Linked DNA regions of Homo sapiens: region 2 is linked to region 1. The links come from fine-mapping of genetic effects on gene expression. Tissue or cell type: whole blood. Region 1 holds a variant in brackets; the other region holds the start of a gene. All regions are shown on one strand. Distances are from middle to middle.

Region 1 (11,227 bases):
TTCTCATTGTCCTGCGGACGCTTCCTGGATCTAATCTGATGCTTATGAAAGTGATTTCCTTCTTTCGAAAACACCAGGCCCAAACAAAAACTAACTTCATCCTGCAGATAAAAACTGTATGTGCCTTACAAGTTGTCAGACTCCTCCAGACCTTCAATCAATATTTTCCCAGCAGCAAAATGCAGCTGCACATTTTAGGAAGCAGAGTGGGCAAATTCCTTCTGCGGAAGCCCATGAACCATCAGGCCTCCCCCTCAGGGTGGCAGGAAGGTGTGGAAAGGGGGACTAAGCAATCCAAGCTGCTAGACAATCCGAGCTCCAGGGAGGCCAAGCACATTCCCCCAGTTTGTGCAGGAAACAGCAGGGAACTGAAAAAAGGGTTCTGTTGAGATGAGACTGATGTTCCCAAGTCCTGAGTCCTCAAACCGAATCACTTTCCGGCAGCAACACCTGTCTTTAGCATGCAAACATCGGTCTCATAGAGTCTTCCCTGAAAGATGTTTAATGATCATGTCATTACTGTCACTCTTTTTTTTTTTTTTGAGAGTGAGTTTTGCTCTTGTTGCCCAGACTGGAGTGCAATGGAGCGATATCAGCTCACCCCAACTTCTGCCTCCCAGGTTCAAGCGATTCTCCTGCCTCAGCCTCCCGGGTAGCTGGGGTTACAGGCATGTGCCACCACGCCTGGCTAATTTTGTATTTTTAGTAGAGACGGGGTTTCTCCATGTTGGTCAGGCTGGTCTCAAACTCCCAACTTCAGGTGATCTGCCTGCCTCGGCCTCCCAAAGTGCTGGGATTACAGGCGTGAGCCACTGCGCCCAGCCACTGCCACCTTTTAAACTACAGAAGATGAGTGTGCCTGCTCAGACAATGAAGGACTCTGAGGGATTTGGAGAGCCACAAGGAGTCCAGACCTTAACCTGAGGGCAACAGCACCATTAAAAGTTTCTAAGACAAGGAGGAACACGGCTCCACCAATTTACAATGGCTAAGAAGAAAATAAGCTCGTCGGAAGGCAGGAAGTTGAGTCAATTTTCTATCCATGAATCTCAGCATTAGGTTGTTTTTATTGAACTTCTGATAGTACATCTTGAAGAATGCTAAGGAAAAGTCTAGAAAGGTGCTCTTAGTCTCCTTTCTCTACTGCAGAAGCCCTTTGTGATCTCCAGGGGAAGCAGCCCCCGTTTCCATATGGTCCCAGGGAGACGAACGACGGCAGAACATTTCATGTGCTGTGGAGGCACCTAGCTTCAGAATGTGAAAAAGTAACCAGAGCTCTCAAACCTCCCTTTCCTCATGTGTTAAATAGGGATAATAGTCCTTACGTCAGGGTTGTTGGGAGAGTGAAATGAGATCACATATGTGAGTCACTGACCTACAGTAAGTGTTTGGTAAACAGTAGTTATCATGGGCGGAGGCCTGACCTGGGAAACGGTCGGCAGGCACAGTAAACTCACCAGCAGATGCTAAAGGGAGCCCCGAGGCTCATCATACCCACCACATGTACACGCATACACACATACACACACACGCACTCATGCACACACACAAGCAGGCACAGAGCATCCCTCCTACATCTCACACATGCCAGGTCTTCCGGGAGTCACTTCTGTGCTTCAGCCAAGATGCCCTGGAAATTTTCCTTTTCTCACCTGCATGAAAATGCTTTTGAGGCCCCCCAGCCTCCGCCCGGAGTTTAGCCCCTTCAGACTCTGCACCCCTGGGGGTGGCCCTGACCCACCCACCCCTGGAGCCCACCATTCCAGGGCTCCCTGATTGTTTACATGGCAATAGAAAGCTTGAGATCAAGCTGAGGTTGCGGCGCATATTTGAACTACAGGGAAGGGAAAGTGTCCTGCTGAGGTTTAGAAGGAAGGTGGGGACTCACAGAAGCCACACAATGAAAAGTCACTGATGATAAATGCCGATTTCACACCCGTTAACCACGGAGAATGCGCCTGCACCAGGCCCAGGTGTCTCTTGACGGAACGAGGTGTGCCTCTCCCCGCGGTGTGCAGCCTGCCCTGTTCTTGCCCTGCAGTCTCATGGGAACTTGCACTGTTTACCAGAGCTAAGTCGGAGTTCATCAGCATTCACTCAGACCTATTCCAAGTGACTTCTCATGCCCAACCAGGCAGGGACAGGATGGCTCAGTCCCCTGCATAGAAACTTCCAAAGTTCTAAAAGAGTCTTACAGCAGAAAGGAGTTCAGTGCCAGGCCTAAATTGATTCCTTTAACAAAACCTGTGCAGGTTCTGGCTTACAGGACTTGGTTCCAAATGTTGGTTTGGAATGTCACTTCCATCAAAACAATGACTCTCAGGGTGGGTGTGTTTCCAGGATTCCCTCAAAAGACAGTTGAGCCCACTCTCATCCTCCCGCAGAGCCGGGAAGCCAGGGAAAGCCTGGCACATTGGGGAGACTGAGTCAAGTTCAAAATGGCCAGAGAATTGATGAGGAGGGCCAGGAATGGAGAGAGAAGAGAGAGAAAGTACACAGAGGCCCATCAGATAATGAAGGACTTTGGAAGCCACTTTAGGAGTCTGGACGTTACCCTGAGATAATGGGGTGCCATGGAAGGATTTTAAGTAGAAGCCCCACTGATCAAAAAGGCTGAAACTCTTCTCCCTTCAAAGTATTGCAACAGTAGAAGTAAACTCTGTGGCTGGTCCAGGGCCTGGAGCTGCAGGGGTTCTCGGACAGCATAGGAGACAGGGAGAGCAACGAGGGCCCTGGGCTCCCTGCCAGGGTGGGCAGGGAGGGGAGCCCCGAAGCTCTTGGTTTCAGCATAGGGAGTGGGAGAGGCCGGAAGGAGAGGCCAATAAGACACTTCCCAACTCAGGGAGCTCTTTTTAGGTGGGAGGCTATGTTTAATGCAGGTGTTCCTCAGGGGATGTCTGCATCCTGCTTTCTTGAAAATGCAGTTTCCTCCAAGCCTAGAAACTACTATCAGTCCAGACATGATGGCTACACGGCAGTGGTCATACAAAAAAAAAAAAAAGAAAGGTGCAAGATGTGCAAGATGGAAAGAATGGATCTATTTTATGTGGGACATTAGTTATCTGTAAACGTTTGACAAACACCAAAGGCTGGTGCCCTGCAGGCCACAGTATATTGATTTCTCTTTATGCCCAGATATGAACTGCATAAAACTTGAAGCCTGTGGGAAGTAATTTAAGGTTAAAATATTTTTATGATATAATAGTGTTTTTCTAAAAGCAAAGATAGTATAAATAAATACACCTGCACACCAATGATAAGGTTAAAATTGTATATTTAAATATATTAATAAATCAAGCCATAGGGCAAACCGAGAGCAATAAAGGCAACACAGATCCCTAATCATGAGTCAGTCAGCACTGCAGCAAACAGGCAAGGTGCTCGGACTGAAATATTTTCATAAAAGCCATACCAACTTTGCACAAATGAGTTTTTATTCTCTAGACAGCACATGTTATAACGTGAGCCTTTTAATTTTCCTCACTTTTCATTTATTTTGCTTTTGCTCTAGACAAATGCCAGGATTAACAAAAAACATTCTTTCTACATTTATTAAAAAACAAAAATATATTCAGAAACCTAGGCTTACAATATTGGAACTTCCCCTCTCAAAAAGCAAGACAGCTTCTTAGCTAAATTGCAAAAACATTGGCAGGCTTCCATGAGATTTCAAAAATAGTTAAATAGCAAGATGGCCCACATATTTTTCCATGAATACATTAAAAACAGATTGATGACTATTGAAACATGAAACATAACTACTACCATATTTTATGGAATCCAAAACTGCCTTGGTGTAAGACACACTGTTATTTAATGAAGGACTAAGAAAATATAAACACTGACAGAACTCTATCTGTCACAATGTTTTATCACTTAGACTTTTTAAAGCATATTACAAGAGCTCTTTTAGGCCTAATTGAACTTAGAATTTATTCATCATATATCACTCTTCTGCATGAGCAGAAAAGCAAAGATAGGTAAATCACTGGGTTACAGTATGCCTAAGACTTCACAGTCAGCCTCTAACTCTTTGGAATCACTCTTTGATTCTGGATCTTTTATATCCATGTCTTCCCAGACACTGTTGAACCTCGAGCCATCAAGAGCTTCCAGGAGGGTTTTGGTGAGGCCGTATAGCTTTGAAAAGTGCCAGACAATTGTCTTCAGGATTTTCATCTAAGCCTCTGACACCCATCCTCTGAGCTTTGATGTTCACACAAAGGCCACGGCAACCATGTCACACAGCTGCGATGGGAGTATGGGACCCGGAGATTTCAGAGTGGTTGGAGCAGAAGAAAGCATTCCTCTTAGAATCGGTGAAATACACTCAAATGTAATTTTTACTTTTGTGGTCTTCCACTTCCACTTTTCCCCCCACCTCCAACCAGATACATTTATATACATCTAAGTCCAAAGATAACTCAGGGAAGGAGAAAATTCTGACATCTATAATAAAAAGTAGGAAAAAACACATTTAAAAAAAACATGGCAAACCTATCATTGGGGATTATTGCGTCAGTCTACACTCCAGAATGTCTCCAGCTGGTACACGGTGTAAATTAGCACTGCTGGAAGCTAGGAGTACATGTGGGTTAAGAAGCCTGGGGAGGCTCAGGGCAACAGAAATAACACAGGCGCTGGGGTCAGCCCCAGCTGGGAATGGGTGGCGGCTTTCTCATTTAACTTGCCTGATGATGTCCATGCTACCTAACCTCTCTAAGCTCCAGGCTGCTCATCTATTAAAAGGATGATAATAGTACGTGTCTCACTGGGTTGTGATAAGAAGTAAATCAAGTCACAAATATAAAACACCACCAATAAATGCCAAATATATTTTGGTCCCCCCCCCATTTATCCCGTCCTCAATAAACAGCCCCAGACATCACCCAAAAGCTGAAAATAAATCAGAACCACTCAAAAACAAAGAAACAAAATTGAAGCATGCTTTTGTCTGTGTATCACTGAGATTCATGAATGGCAACTAATTCTCTCATATTTTTCCACCAACACAGAAAATAGTTACAGCTCAACATCGGGAGCAACATCTTTGGGTTTTTGACATTCTACTACAAATGGTGATCTTTTAAAGAATAGTATATGAACATGATCCAAGTCTGTTGAGAAGTGAGTTCAGCCACAACCTTTGGCATTCTTGGATGCAGTCAGACTCTTCCACAGCAGTGGCAAGTTCATGCCTGGGCAGACAGTTGGTGAGGACACAGCCCGATCCCAAGCCCAGCTCACTCCCAGTGGCTTCTCTCCCTCCCTTTCTGTGGGCACACCAGCTACAGTATTCTCCTGCCTGCCCCCAAATACAATGCCTCCACGCAGGGCATGCAGATGCAAACCTCTGCCTTCCAGGAAACCCAGCAAA[A/C]CTTCCTCCTTGGAGTTGGTTCCAGTAAAAGGTGGAGCTCACCCACAGTGGGCAGGAAGTTGAAAACACAATCCCAAACTCAGCAGCGACTTTCTTCTGAGGCCCTGGTAGCTCAGTTAATCATTTCACCTTGGTTTTCCATCTTTCTAATGGGAGTAATAGGCTTCCCTCCTCTACAAGTATGTTTTGAGAATTAAGTGTTTGGGGAATGTGGCTGTTTTGTATGCTCTGGTGGGTGGAACATTGAGAGAATACCAAACACTACTGTGGCGTATTTGTGGTGAACTGACAGCCTGACCCTTTAGTAAACCACATTACTAGGAATCGCGTCCATCACTACTCAAGGCTTTTATAGGTTAAAAAAAAAATCATGGCCAGGCGCGGTGGCTCACACCTGTAATCCCAGCACTTTGGGAGGCCGAGGCGGGCGGATCACCTGAGGTCAGGAGTTCGAGACCAGCCTGGTCAACACGGTGAAACCCCGTCTCTACCAAAAATACAAAAATTAGCTGGGCGTGGTGGCAGGCACCTGTAATCCCAGCTACTCAGGAAGCTGAGGTAGGAGAATCGCTTGAACCCGGGAGATGGAGGTTGCAGTGAGCCGAGATCACGCCACTGCACTCCAGCCTGGGCAACAAGAGCGAAACTCCATCTCAGAAAAAAAAAAAAAAGAAATCATGTAGTAGATGATTCTCTCTCTCTCTTTACCTCTCTCTTTATCTCTCTCCCCACCCTTTTCTCTCTCCATCTCCTTTCTTTCTCTCCCTCCCTTTCTCCTCTCCTCTTTCCCCATCTCTCCCTTCCTCTGTCTCTCCCTTTCTTTCTCCCCCTTCTCTTTCTCTTTCCCTCTCTCTCTCCTGTTTTTGGTCTGTGCAGGTTCATGTCTCCTCTGTTGTGGTAACAGCACTCCTTTCCTCTGGGCTTTTGCAACACTCTCCCCCACAATACCTCCTCCAATCCCTCTCCTATTTGGGGACCCCAGGCAAAGACCCAGGACTCAGGCCTCCCTGGTTATAACATCCCACCTGCCTCAGCCTGGGTTTCCCCCAAGGCAGAGCCTCACCAGCAGGTAGCTTATTAGAAAGAGGGCACAGGGATCAGGGGCGAGGCAAGGAGCAAAAGTCAATAGACCAATGAGTTAATAAGTCGGCCGCCAAGGTGGATGTCTGGGGGAAGATCTTGCCAGGGTTGTCCCAGCAACCTACAGCGTGCACCTTAGAACTGTCTGCCTGAGGGAAAAAAGGCAGGAACATTTAGCCATCGGCTCCTTCCCCTAGCTCCTCTGCTCCTTATTTCCAGGTAAAGCACATACGAGTATTGGGTGGGTTGTGCCCGTGTCCCCCACCAGAGTTTAGGAGAACTGCAGTAGGAGGCAACCCAAGTCAAGGTGAGCCACTCAGGATGTGACTGATGCCATGGCCAAGATGAGAGATAGTTCTGAGAAAATGCAAGACTTGTACAAAAGCTGTCCAGCGCACCATTCCTGGGTATTCTTCCAACAAAGGCACTTCTTAGAAAGCTGTTTTAACCTTATGACACTTTTAAAATTATAGCATTTCAGAATCCAGGAAACTTGATATAGCTCAGGGAGAGTCCCAGTGCACATTAACATATTACATTCTCTAAAAAGTTCTGCAACTTCTTTATCTCAAACGCTTGTTCCCCATGGTTAATCATCAACCAGAAACAGACACTAGGTCATGCTGCAGGAAAGCTTCCATAGAAAGCAGCAGGTAAGCAAATTTCCTTCAGATACTTTTGTGCAATTGATTCAAAGAGGAGGGTCAGGAATGCCATTTCTCAGAGGAGTAAAGCTCATTCACGCAGAAACAACCTGATACCATCAACAAGAATGTCTATATATTGAAGGTCAAGAATAATGAAAAAACTCAGTGATAATATACACCCTGTTTGTGAGGCACTCATCACATTATGGAACATTCAGGCAGTCCTCACCTTGCATAGTTCCCAAACGCACGAATTTTCATTGCCCTGTGGCAACTGAGGTTAAATAACACCAGCCCCCTAACAACATGGTTCCAATTTCAGTCACCATTAACTGTGAGTGATTGCATGGGGGACAACCTCTGCTGCTTGCTCTGCAGTCCACAGACCACCACGTAATAACAGATGTGCATCATGATCAGTGATTAACCGCATCACGTCCTTCAGTCCTTCCGTGTTATCAGTTCCCACACAGACAGCAAAGCGTGTGGTCGTGCTGCTCTCTTGGCTCCCAGTGACAAACCCACGTGACATTTCACAGAAATGAATACTCAAGAGAGGTAGGTAGCCAATGAAGAGGAAAGTATAGCAAAGAAACAAAAAGTGAGAATGCAGGAGGTGAAAGTTGACTCAGACGTAAACGAGTTTAGAGAAGAAAGAGCTGATGGTGGGAAAGTTGATGCTGTTGTCTTTTGAGAGATTCTGGATGTGTCTTTTGAGGGACTCAGGATAAAGATGCTGGCAAAAACTTCATATTAAAGAAACTCTTGGAGATATTTCACAGCACTGAAAGTGTGCAGGACAAAATGTAGGAAGCCTATCCAAATATAGAAAGGAATGTGACAATTTGCCAAGGCATAGAAAAGATGCCTGGTCCATACTGTAAGTTTCACAATGAGAAGGTGGCAAAGCCCTTTTCAATTTACTCTCCATAAGTCTTTTACAAAGAAATAAAACACTATTTCTCAATGTTTCTCATTTTTTAAATTATGACAGGCTAAATAAGTATTCAATTTGCTATCTTTAAATGTTCTTATACATTTACGACCAGTAGTAAAACAGTTCTTAACACTTTAAAAATTTTTTGAAGATTATGAAACAATCATAATTTTCCTTGTTGCTTCTTAAAATTGCTTCACAGTTTCAACCTGCACAATCATTTCTTCAGTCCCACACTTTCGTGCAAAGCAAAGACTTTACAATGCTGTGATGTTGTAAAGAAAATTCCCGTTGTCCTACTCTGAATCATTTGACAAATGCAACTGAACCCACCACGATGGAGTTGTGTAATACCAAGGTTACATGAATCTTTCTCTCACATAGTTTGCAGTTGAGGAAGAGGGATGGCAAGTCAACCAACATAATGGTTAAGGCTGACATTGATTGATAGCTTTCTGTGTGCTGGGCACTGTGCTGGTCCTTTTGTTACAGTGCATTGCCTCCAAGGTGGAGCTTTAGGAGGGGGATGATAATGAAAACTTCGGAGACCATGGGGACTTCATCCTTTAGAGCTTGGGTCCTCGTGCCTGTGTGTGAAGAAAGGCCCAGCCAGGAAGGCAGCGTCCCTCTTTTCTGCCCACACCTACAGGCTCCCAAGGCAGGGCCAAGGTGGATGTGAGGCCTGAGACGGGAACTCAACACAGCAGTCCCCTGTCATAAGGACAAGACTGGAAGTTGGCCAAGGTTTGCCAGCATATCATCGCATAAGATGCAAATGCCCGGGGATTCTTCTAACGTGGTGTTAGGCAGATGTACTTCATATCTTCTCCCTGTTTATCTAATTTCATGAAGGCACATTTCAGGAGAGTAAGCTGCCGCAAAGGGTATACATTGTGCCTTGGAAAACTCCCGGGCATGAAAACTATAAACCAGCCATCCAAATTACCTTCACATTTAGGAAATCATTACTGTTGATACGATGTGTCTTTGTTGGATCGTTGTATCTTGGCAGTCTCTTCGAGCCTGTGCTTTTTAGCCTTCTCTCCACCTGTACTTTTAGGCATTGCTTACTTTTTTATAGGCAAAAAGATTACATATGTGCACATGTGTGTGGCTACATGTGGGTAAATATGTATGTATCGGTAGGGGTACTGTATTAGTAGCTGGGGCTGCCATAATAAAATACCACAGATGCGGCAGCTTACACAACGGAGCTTTATTCCCTCGCAGTGCTGGGGGCTGGAAGCCCCACATCCAGGTGTGGGCGGGATTGGTTTCTCCTGAGGCCTCCCTCCTGGGCTTGCAGATGGTGTCCTCTCCCTGTGTCCTCACACCGTCTTCCCTCTGTGGGTGTCTGTGTCCTCATCTCCTCTTCCTATAAGGACTCCTGACATATTGGATTAGAGCCCATTCTAATGCCTTCGTTTTACCTTAATTATCTTTTTAAAGGCCTCATCTCCAAATACAGTCCCAGTCTGAGGTATGAGGAGGTTAGGGCTTCAAATATGAATTTTGAGGGACACATTTCAGATTATAACAGATACATACATATGTATATCCTATAAATGAAAATGTCAGGACGGATTTTAGAGATACAAGTTTTTACTTAATTATGATCCCCCAGCGATCTCATCTCCTCTTAGTCTCAATTTTTCTTGTCTAAGAGAGGGTGCTCCTACCCACATCTTCAGTCCAAATCCCTCTCCTGAAGGTCGGACCCGCATTTGCAGTGACGGTGACTGGACATTTTCTCCCAGGTGTTCGTCAACACTTTCAGCCCTACAGGTCTGAAACAAAACTTACCCACCTCCAGTGAAGCTCGTCCTCCTGGCCTTTCTGCTTCCTTTTTAAAGTCCATCCCCCTCCAGGCCTCCCATTACCGGCTGGGAGCCCCGCCCCTTCCTGGGCCTCCTCCTCCGGGGCTTTCAGCTCCTGGCTGGGAGCCCCGCCCCCTCCAGTCCGCCTTTCCAGGCTGAGAGCCCCGCCCATTCCAGGCCTCATCTCCTGGCTGGAAGCCCCGCCCACTCCAGTCCTCACCCTCCAGGCTGAGAGCCCCGCCCATTCCAGGCCTCATCTCCTGGCTGGAAGCCCCGCCCACTCCAGTCCTCACCCTCCTGGCTGGGAGCCCCGCCCACTCCAGGCCTCACCCTCCAGGCTGGAAGACCCGCCCCTCCCGGGCCTCCGGATCCTGGCTGGGAGCCATCTCTGCCTCCTGCCGCTTCCTGCACTCCTGATCAGGTCAGTGGCCAGTCACAGACCTCTGAAATGTCCTTCCTGACTGTTAGCTCCACAGCATTCCTACAGCTCCCGCCGCAGTTCCGCCCTCCGGAGGGTTCCAACAGCAGCCCAGTGCGCCTCCCCAGCCCCAGGCTCCCTCCACTCCAGTGAGCCTGCACCTGGCGCTCCCTGGCACACATATTTTCCATTGCTCTTCACTGCCAATTAAATGCAAATTTCTCATCGTGGGGTTCCAAGTTCTCTGTATTTGGTCCTCTTATCCTGACAGCTCTACCCTCCCCAGAGCACTACAATCTGGCCAAGAGCCTCACCAGCCTATTCCCCCGAACCATTGTTTTATTTATTTTAGATTCAGGGGTATTTGTATGCAGGTTTGTTACATAAGTATATTGCGTTATGATAAGGTTTGTGCTTCTGATGATGATCCAGTCGCCCAACATAGTACCGGATAGTTAGGTTTTCTTCCATTGCCCCCCTCTCCCTCCTTCCTTTTGGGGTCCCTGGTGTCTGTTATTCCCATGTTTATGTCCTTATGTACCCAGTGTTTAGATCCCACTTATAAGTGAGAGCATGTGGCATTTGGTTTTCTGTTTCTGCATTAGTTTGCTTAGAATAACGACTGCCAGCTGCATCCATGTTGCTGCAAAGGACATGATTTCCTTGTTTTTTATGACTGCACAGTATTCCATGGCCAAAAAAATGTGGTATAAAAATATGTACCACATTTTTTTAATCCAGTCCACAGTCGATGGGCACCTGGGTTGATCACATGTCTTCACTATTGTGAACAGTGCTGCAATGAACATACGTGTGCAGGTGTCTTTTTGGTAGGACTATTTATATTCCTTTGGGTATATACCTAGTAATGGGATTGCTTGGTCTAATATTCATTCTATTTTAGATCTTTAAGAAATCTGCAAACTGCTTTCCACAGGGGCTGCATTAATT
Region 2 (8,000 bases), 61 kb before region 1:
CTGGGATTACAGGCCTGAGCCACCGCGCCTGGCTAGCGCATTGTTGATCTACTCCTAAGATGCAAAGATCAGACAAAACTGCCTCAATTAGGTCATTATTTTCCTCAAGACATTTGGCAAGATATTTTGGGCAGAAGAGTGTCTTCATTGCCACTCATCTGTTATGGTCTCTCATGTTTATATCATGATAGAAAAGCCATCTCCTCCTATGCTGATAGAAGCCAAACTTAGGTTATTCTGAGAAAGTGGAACTTAGAGGCCAGAGGGGCCATGCAAGATTCCTACTCCTTTTCTGTCAATAAAAAGGCTTATTATGAATTCAATTTTTTTTTTTTTGCAATTAAAAGCAGACAAGCTAGGGATCCAGAATTTTGAGTTTAGCAGCCCAAACATACCTTCTCACTCAAAAACATATTCACCAAGGTTGCCAGGCAGCCAGCAGGATGTTGCAGATTTTACCATCTCATATCACAAATAGTCGATATTCCATTATGATGGTGTTCATTTTATTTTTGTTGCATTTGATAGCAAGAAACATGTTTAAGTATTTTGAACACACCGTTTACATATCTGAGATGAAACCGGAAGCCAGTTCATACGTATGACTTGAATGTGTGAGTCAATTCCCGAGGAAATGCTGGCATAAGAGAGTCAAATGGGAGTGGAACTACTATTATTTGAAATAATGACCCATTGGGGAGCCTTGCTGTGCTACAGTAATAAGATTTGACAGGTAGAAAAAAGAAGAGATCAGGACATAATAGAAAACCACAGCTAGAATACATTTACCACATTGTAAATTATTTCTTTTTCCACAAAGGTGGGGAGGGAGTATGAGGGGAGGAGGAGGAGGGAACACAGTGGCATTAAGGACAGAAAAGAAGAAAGTTAATTTTGCATTGTGCTGGTAATGGATTTCCAGCAATGCGATTTTACTGAAGCCTTATGCATCATCCTCCTGTAAAGGTCTACGGTGACCCTTGAACGTCATCCTATGAATTCGCCAAGAAAATTAAGACACTCCAGTAAAAGTACAGCCATGAAAGAAGACAGACTTCTAGATCCATGCCCAACTAGATCTGTTTGATAAATAGAACACAAGCTGGCAGAATTGGCCATCAGCCAACCTAAAAGAAGAAATCAAAAGCAAGGTCTGTTTGTTATTTTGTTACATTTGGGAAAGAATTCTGAAAGATGCAGAGGAATATCTGCTACTATTTGGCCCGGGACTAGCAGTTCAACCACACTCAGACACTCTGTCTCCAGTGCCAAGTGGTTCTGTTTCTCTAGAGAACCCTAACACACCCCCCCATTATTAAACAACCATCCAGTACTGTTTTATTGAGCAGTCAGAAGCAGACCAGCTTTATTCACATTCTGTTAACCCAATTTTTCCTTCCCTCCATAAACTGTTTGCTAGAGGCAGTCTTGCCAGTGCAGCTAAGCTGCCTGTGGCTGGTAAGGTCTCCTGGGCCCTCTACGCCCTTTCTCCTCCGCAGGTCGTGCCTCTATTGGAAGCATGCTTGTAATACCTAACATCCTCCTGGGGCCAGCCTGTGTTCTGCCAAAAGCACATGCAGGAAGCAATACCAGCTCTTAGAGTAATGTGGGCCACAGGGAATGAGCCATGAATGTTAAGATGTGTTTGAAGAAAAGTCAGTGTTCTTAATCTCAGGATGGTAGCCAGATCTAAGTACTGGTATGAGAAGAAAAAGAGAAACAGAGAGAGAGAAAGGGAGGGAGACAGGGAGAGAGGGAAAGAATGAGAGACAGGAAGAGAGAAGAGGAGAGCTAGGAGAAAGGGAGGGGGAGAAAGACTACCTTTACAAAGCAGGAAGGACATTGCAATCTTGGGGTTGCACTTGGCCATGAGTATGTGGAAGGCTGGTGGAAGTGAGATTGGAGGGGGGTCAGCTCCTTTTCACAGCGACTCTGCTGTAAGAATTCTACCTTCCCCTGAGAGGAGGAAGACCAATTTCTAACCATTTTAAACCCAAGCAATAGAAATGTAAAAAACAGGCACATACATGCGCTTGTACACACACACACACGAATGATTGTTAAACTGGTGACATCTGAATAAACTTTGTGGATTGTATCAGTGTCAATGTCCCAGTTTTGGTATTGTCCTCCATGTAAGATCTTACCATGGGGGATGATGGGGAAAGACATATGAGACCTCTCTGTATCTTTTTGCAACTTCCTGTGAAAATATAATTATTTCAAAATATAAAGCTAAAGAAAAACCTCAAGTAGAGCTAGAATATGGAAAATGGGACTAGCTGTGTAAGAGTTGGGCCCTCCTCTATGCCTCAAACTAACCAGCCAGCAACGCAGAGGCCACAGGGGGCGGAGCTACATCCATGGCCTCCAGGACTTAGGGACATACATCCAAGCTTTCCGGCTGCCTGAAGTCAAATCAAGGATTGGTCCAGTGGAGTGTACCCGGGCCCCCACCATCCTCTGCTGAGGAATTTCACTTCCAGAGTCTGTGTCATTGGATTTTGTCTTCTTCCTACTGATTCCAGTTGAAAGCCCACTGCTAGCTGTTAATAGAAGCCATTCTGACAAGGTTGTCCTCCCCTCGACAGCTGCCCAGGTCTAGCCCAGCCTAGGCCACTAATGGAGGGTGGAAGGCACAACAATACCTTTGGAGCTGATATTTGTTCAAACGCTGCTCACTCTAAACCTGGCTTGTTTATCCAACTCTATTTTACTCCATGAATGTCCAAGAAAACTTTTCTAGAAGAGATTTGATTGTTGCTGCCCTTTGTATGCAAAACAGATGCTGCTGGCTGCTCTCCTAGAGCTCTTCCTCACTTCTGGCAGGGTTCACATGCTGCTGGTTTGGAGAAGCCTGCCTTCGAGGGCCCACATGCCCGGGGGAGAGGGGAGCAGGGGCAGTTTGGGGTGTGCTGGATTCACCCACTATAATGCTGTCCTCCCTTGGGTGGAAGCCATAGAAGTCAACAGGACAGACAGCAAGGGAGTGCCACATAGAGGCCAAGGAAGAAATATTGAAAATGAACAGTCTTCTATTTCGTGATGAAGTTTTGACTTCTTTCCTCAGGTCATTTGCTGAAATACAGTGAAGTATCTGGAGGAAACACTTATCTCTGCCCTTGAATTCCCAGAACGCCAACTCTGATTAACTTTCCGATGTTATTGCTTCAGAAAGTCCAAAGTCAGATGATCCGTCTTACATGTATTAAAAGTTACTGAGGCAAGGGTCCAAGGGAAAGTCTCTCCGCTCTCAGCCTGTCCGTCACTGTTCATACTGTAGAAGGAGAACTACTTTAAAATGCAACCTACCATCTTTTATATTGGTAGGTGATTCTGAGGCATTTGCAGGATAGGTAAAGCCTGGAAATTGATACAGTGATTATTTAAAGCAGTGATCGCCACCAGGGGTGAGTTTATCCCTCATGGATACTTTGGTAAGGTCTAGAGATATTTTTGGTTTCACAACTAGAGGGTATGGGGATGCTACTGGCATCTGGTGGGTAGAGACCAGGGATGCTTCTAGACATCCTATGATGTGCAGAACAGCACCCACCACAAAGGATATCCAAAACAAAATGTCAATAGTGATGACATTGAGGAATCCTGCTTTAAGGTTCTCGGCAAATTTACTACAAATAACCACTACTATTCATCCAGCAAACAATCACTGGAGATTTAGTATGATATTAAGACATTATGTATAGCCCTGGCACTGGGGAGTTAGCTTTGCAGTATCTAGTGGAGGAATGACAGAGGTATACAAACAAATATAATGTAATATAAAACATGCAAAGTGCCTGAGTGGAAATGCAAATAAATACAGAGAAGGATATGAGTTTGAGAGGGTGGGGTTGGGGGAGGAGGAAGAACCAATGTCACTTTCCCCAAGAGGACCACAAACTGCATGTTTACACTCAAAGATATCACTCTTGCATATAAATTTGAAATAACTGCTAGGAAAGCTCACCAAACCCTTAAGCGCTTTTTAAGCAATCTGTCTTTCTGCTTTTATATACATATCCTCAGAGAGATGCAGCCTACAGCTTTCTTTGTGACTTTGTTCTTTATTGAGATTATTTTCCTAACAACAATGTGTTTCTAGTACCAAGAAAATGCTTTATTTCCTTCTCCCGCCCTTAGTTGATTCTTTCTATCTATACCTTTAAAATATTGATAAACATACAGTGTAATTCTATAGCTGCTAATCAACAACACAATACGTACTTAGCCTCTTTTATTTTGCCTGGATAGCAACTTAAATTTATCCACAATTTTGAGGATTCACCTTCCTAAGCATCTGTTCATTGGCTTCTGTCTTTTTCAATACTGAGTGCCAAGGATGTAGCAGGAACTATCGTCTCCAACCCCCTGCTCCTATTTTCCAGGCTGAAAGAAACCCTGGGACAGCACAGAGATACTTAGGAAGGAGTCCAATGAGCATAAGACAAAAGGGCTCTTTCCCACCCTTAGGAAAATTAGTGACTGGACCAAAGGGGTTTTGATCAAACAAAAGTGTACTTACGTTAGATTTGCAAGGCTGAAATTGCCTAGTGATCATTTCCATTGCAGATATCATAGACAATGATGCATCTTCCAGGTCAGCAATGTGGATGATAAAACTGTCTGGAACACTACATTGGCAAATGTGAGCTCATAGCTAAGCTGAAATGGAAATCAGTTATGAAACAGAACTACCAGATGCCATATGCCTGCACACAAAATATTCTGGGCAATCTTACAAATCAAATAAGTAACATATGTAGTTGAGGTTCTACTTTGTGAGTTTCACTGCACAATACCCGGGAGCAATTTGTTTGTTTGTTTGGTTTTAACTCTGGCTTTGAATCTTGACTCTGACACTTTCTAGTGTGGGGATCTAGATAAGTTAATACAACATCTCCGAGTCTATATTTTCGTAACAGTAAAATGAGGTAAATCATACCTATCTCTTCAGATTATTGTTTATTCTGCAGGTCTGGGTGCTGTCAGGAAAACGAAGACCATATCAGTTATTTTAACAGAGAGAATTTGATATAGGAAGTTGGTTAGAGAACCAGTTGCTGGAGAACCAAAAGAGCAAAGAAAGGACCCCTGAAGGCTGGGAGAGCAAAAGGCAGAGGTTGTGGGGATTAGAAACTGGATGCTTGACAGAAGGACCCTGTGGAGCTGAGACACAGGCTGCTAAGGAAAGGGTGACAGCTTCTGATGTGCTGTTACTGCAGTAGCTTAGGGCCCCGCAGAGCTGAGTCTCAGCTGAAGCTGGGAAGGTGCAAGAGAGCTGGAAACTGGAACCAACTGCCACTGCCAACATGATGGGCCATCACCAGTGACACTCCCAGCAAGTACTCACGAAGGAGCAAGTCCCTTCTTCGACTCCAGCCTCCATCTCTCTGCTACCTTGACTGGCAGACAGTGAAGGAGAAACATGATTACCGAGAGCCCAGTGAAAAAGCAGAGGAAAGAGGGCTGGATTTGGAGCTGAGAAACAGCCCCAATATATGGCCCATCCATTCACTCAACATGTACATTTATGGAGTGCTTACTGTGGATCAGACTGTGAGGCTGTGAGGCTCTCTGCTAGGTGTTGGGGAACCTAGAGAATTAAATGGAAAACACTCCTAAAGTACAAGGCTCAGCTATTAGTACAAGGTAAACCCTCTGTTAAAAATAGCTCTCCTATCTCCAGTCCAGTGGGAAACATAAAGGAAAAGGAAATGGAAAGCAAAACAAACAAAACAAAACAAGAAACCAGCTCTGGCCTTTAAGAAATCTCATGTTTAGATTCAGTGTTGCAGGATAAGCCACGTAGCAAAGTGCAGAGTGATACATGTTTGTACACTTTACCAAGAATGCCAGACATCGCTGTTTTAAGAGTTCAAGGAAGCAAGAGAATATATGGGGGCAGGGAAGCCTTCACAAAGAAGATGGGAATGAGCAAGACCTGAGGATTTAGATAATGGCCAAAAAGACTAAGACCATTGCAAATGGGAGAAAGCACACAAGCAAATCAAACATGGTGGGAATGTGCTGGTGTGTATGTTGCCACTCTGGCCTCAAGGAATGAAGGATGGATTTGTGATGTGGAGGATGGAAGTTGGAGCCAGTCGCTCATTTCTGGACTGTATTCTGAGGCATAGATAAGCCATTGGAGCTTTGTGAATGAGCAGAAGTTGTATGCAGAAAATATTATCTTTATAGCCCCTATCATATCTAACACAATACCTTGTACATAGTGGAATATTTGGAGGAGGAAGCATTACATTAAATGGGATGGGATGGGATGGGATGGGATGGGATGGGTTGGGATGGGATGGGATAAAATGGAATTAGAAAGGCAGGTCTTAACTTTGAAAATCTTTTTAGAAAATATTTTGAGCCTAAGTATTAATGTCTACTCAAGCTCTCCTAACTTTTGTATCTCCCTCTGTTTTGATAATAATAATAGATACTTTATTAAATCCGCTATGCAATCCATGAGCAATTTTAAGGCCAAACGTTCAGGAACTAAAAAAATTCAGGCAATGATAAACATTTTCTATGATAAAAACATTAACAAGTAAAGATATAACCCAACTAGCAAGACCCTGTTTATTCCATGGATGGAGGCCCCCTGTTGTCAGAGTGAACATGATGTTGGCTTTGAAGACACGGGGGGGAGCTGATGAAAATATCATGGGCTTATTTTAAAAAGTGTTGGGCAATATGCTTTTGAATAAATGTAGCAATTCATGTGAAAACAATATTGTTGCAAATTTTGAATATGTTTGCAAAATATACGATGTACTCGCAACTAATCTATTGTTTTCTTCTTCGTAGATCCATTACAAGATTTTGGCTTTTCTGTTGAAAAGTGTTCCAAGCAATTAAAATCAAATATCAACATTAGATTTGGAATTATTCTGAGTAAGTAAAAAAAATGATTAGCATGAAATAAAACATTGCACAGCCTCTTCCAACTCCACACACCCAATGACTTATGTTAACTGTAATGACTGGCTAAACTACTGTTCCCTCACCACTCTCTGGAATTAACTCTATTTATATCTTCATTTTCAAATCTTTCTCTGGGTTATATTCAGGTAGGGTAGAACTCTCACTTAAAGCTGTACTTTTGTATTAAAAAGACTCTAGGCACTCATTTGGATGATATAAGCACCTGGAATCAGTATACCCAGCAAAAAAAAAGGAAAATATTTTGAGATTAAGTATTAATGTCTACTCAGGATCTCCTAACTTTTTTAGTTATCTCAGCAACAAATAAATCTACTACCAGCGGTACGGTTTGTCATTTGTGTTATTTTGTATCCCAAATAGTTAATACAAATTCTTAAACTTTGACATCGGCAAGGAGGAGATGTAATATTTTCTCTCCTACCCCAATCAGTAAGCTAGAGCACTTTCTGATTGTTTAATTTTCATATGATCATGCAATTATAGTTGGTCAATATATTTTCTATAGCTACTAGACGACCTCCTTTTCCAAAGCAGTTATATCAAAATCAAAGTAGAGAGGTTTAATAAACTTAGCATGTGGAATCATTCCAGAGAAATGGAGGGAACATTCATAGAAATCAAGAACTCTCACGCATCTTTGTATTTCTAGAATCTTACACAGTATCTGGACTCTAGCAGCAGCTGGAGAAATGTTATGGGGAGAGAAAAAGCGAGAAAAGAGAAATAGAAGAGTGGGTGGAACATAAAAGGGAGGAATGGAGAAAAAGAGAGAATTGGAAGCCACCACCATGGAACCCGCTGCAGCTTCCTGTGCACCTGTGCTGCAATACCTCCCTGGCAACAGCAGCAGGTGTATGTAGGCGTGACCACACCCCACCGCCATCATGGGGAACAAATGATACTATGCAACTGAGAAATTCCAGAAGCCAGACCTGCAGACATCACATTAAAAGGCCATAGCATCAGGGTGGGGAGCTCAGCTGATTAACTACCTTGTTCCAAGCAGGTATTTTGAGAAACAGCCACCTTTCATACGCAGGGCC

Evidence for each region. PIP is the estimated chance that this variant, and not a neighbour inherited with it, causes the effect.
Region 2: LY86-AS1 starts here. The variant in region 1 is fine-mapped to the expression of LY86-AS1 in whole blood (TOPMed, PIP above 0.99).

Annotation. Positions count from the first base shown.
Region 1 is chr6:6,677,052-6,688,278 of GRCh38, forward strand. No RefSeq gene overlaps it. Among named protein-coding and RNA genes, the nearest start is that of LY86-AS1, 60 kb to the left of the region's middle. The variant A/C (reference allele first, on the strand shown) is at 5,378.
Region 2 is chr6:6,618,107-6,626,106 of GRCh38, forward strand. LY86-AS1 (LY86 antisense RNA 1) reads right to left here and starts at 4,720. Exons shown (of 8, transcript NR_026970.1): 1 at 4,526-4,720. LY86 (lymphocyte antigen 86) reads left to right here. Exons shown (of 5, transcript NM_004271.4): 2 at 6,820-6,906.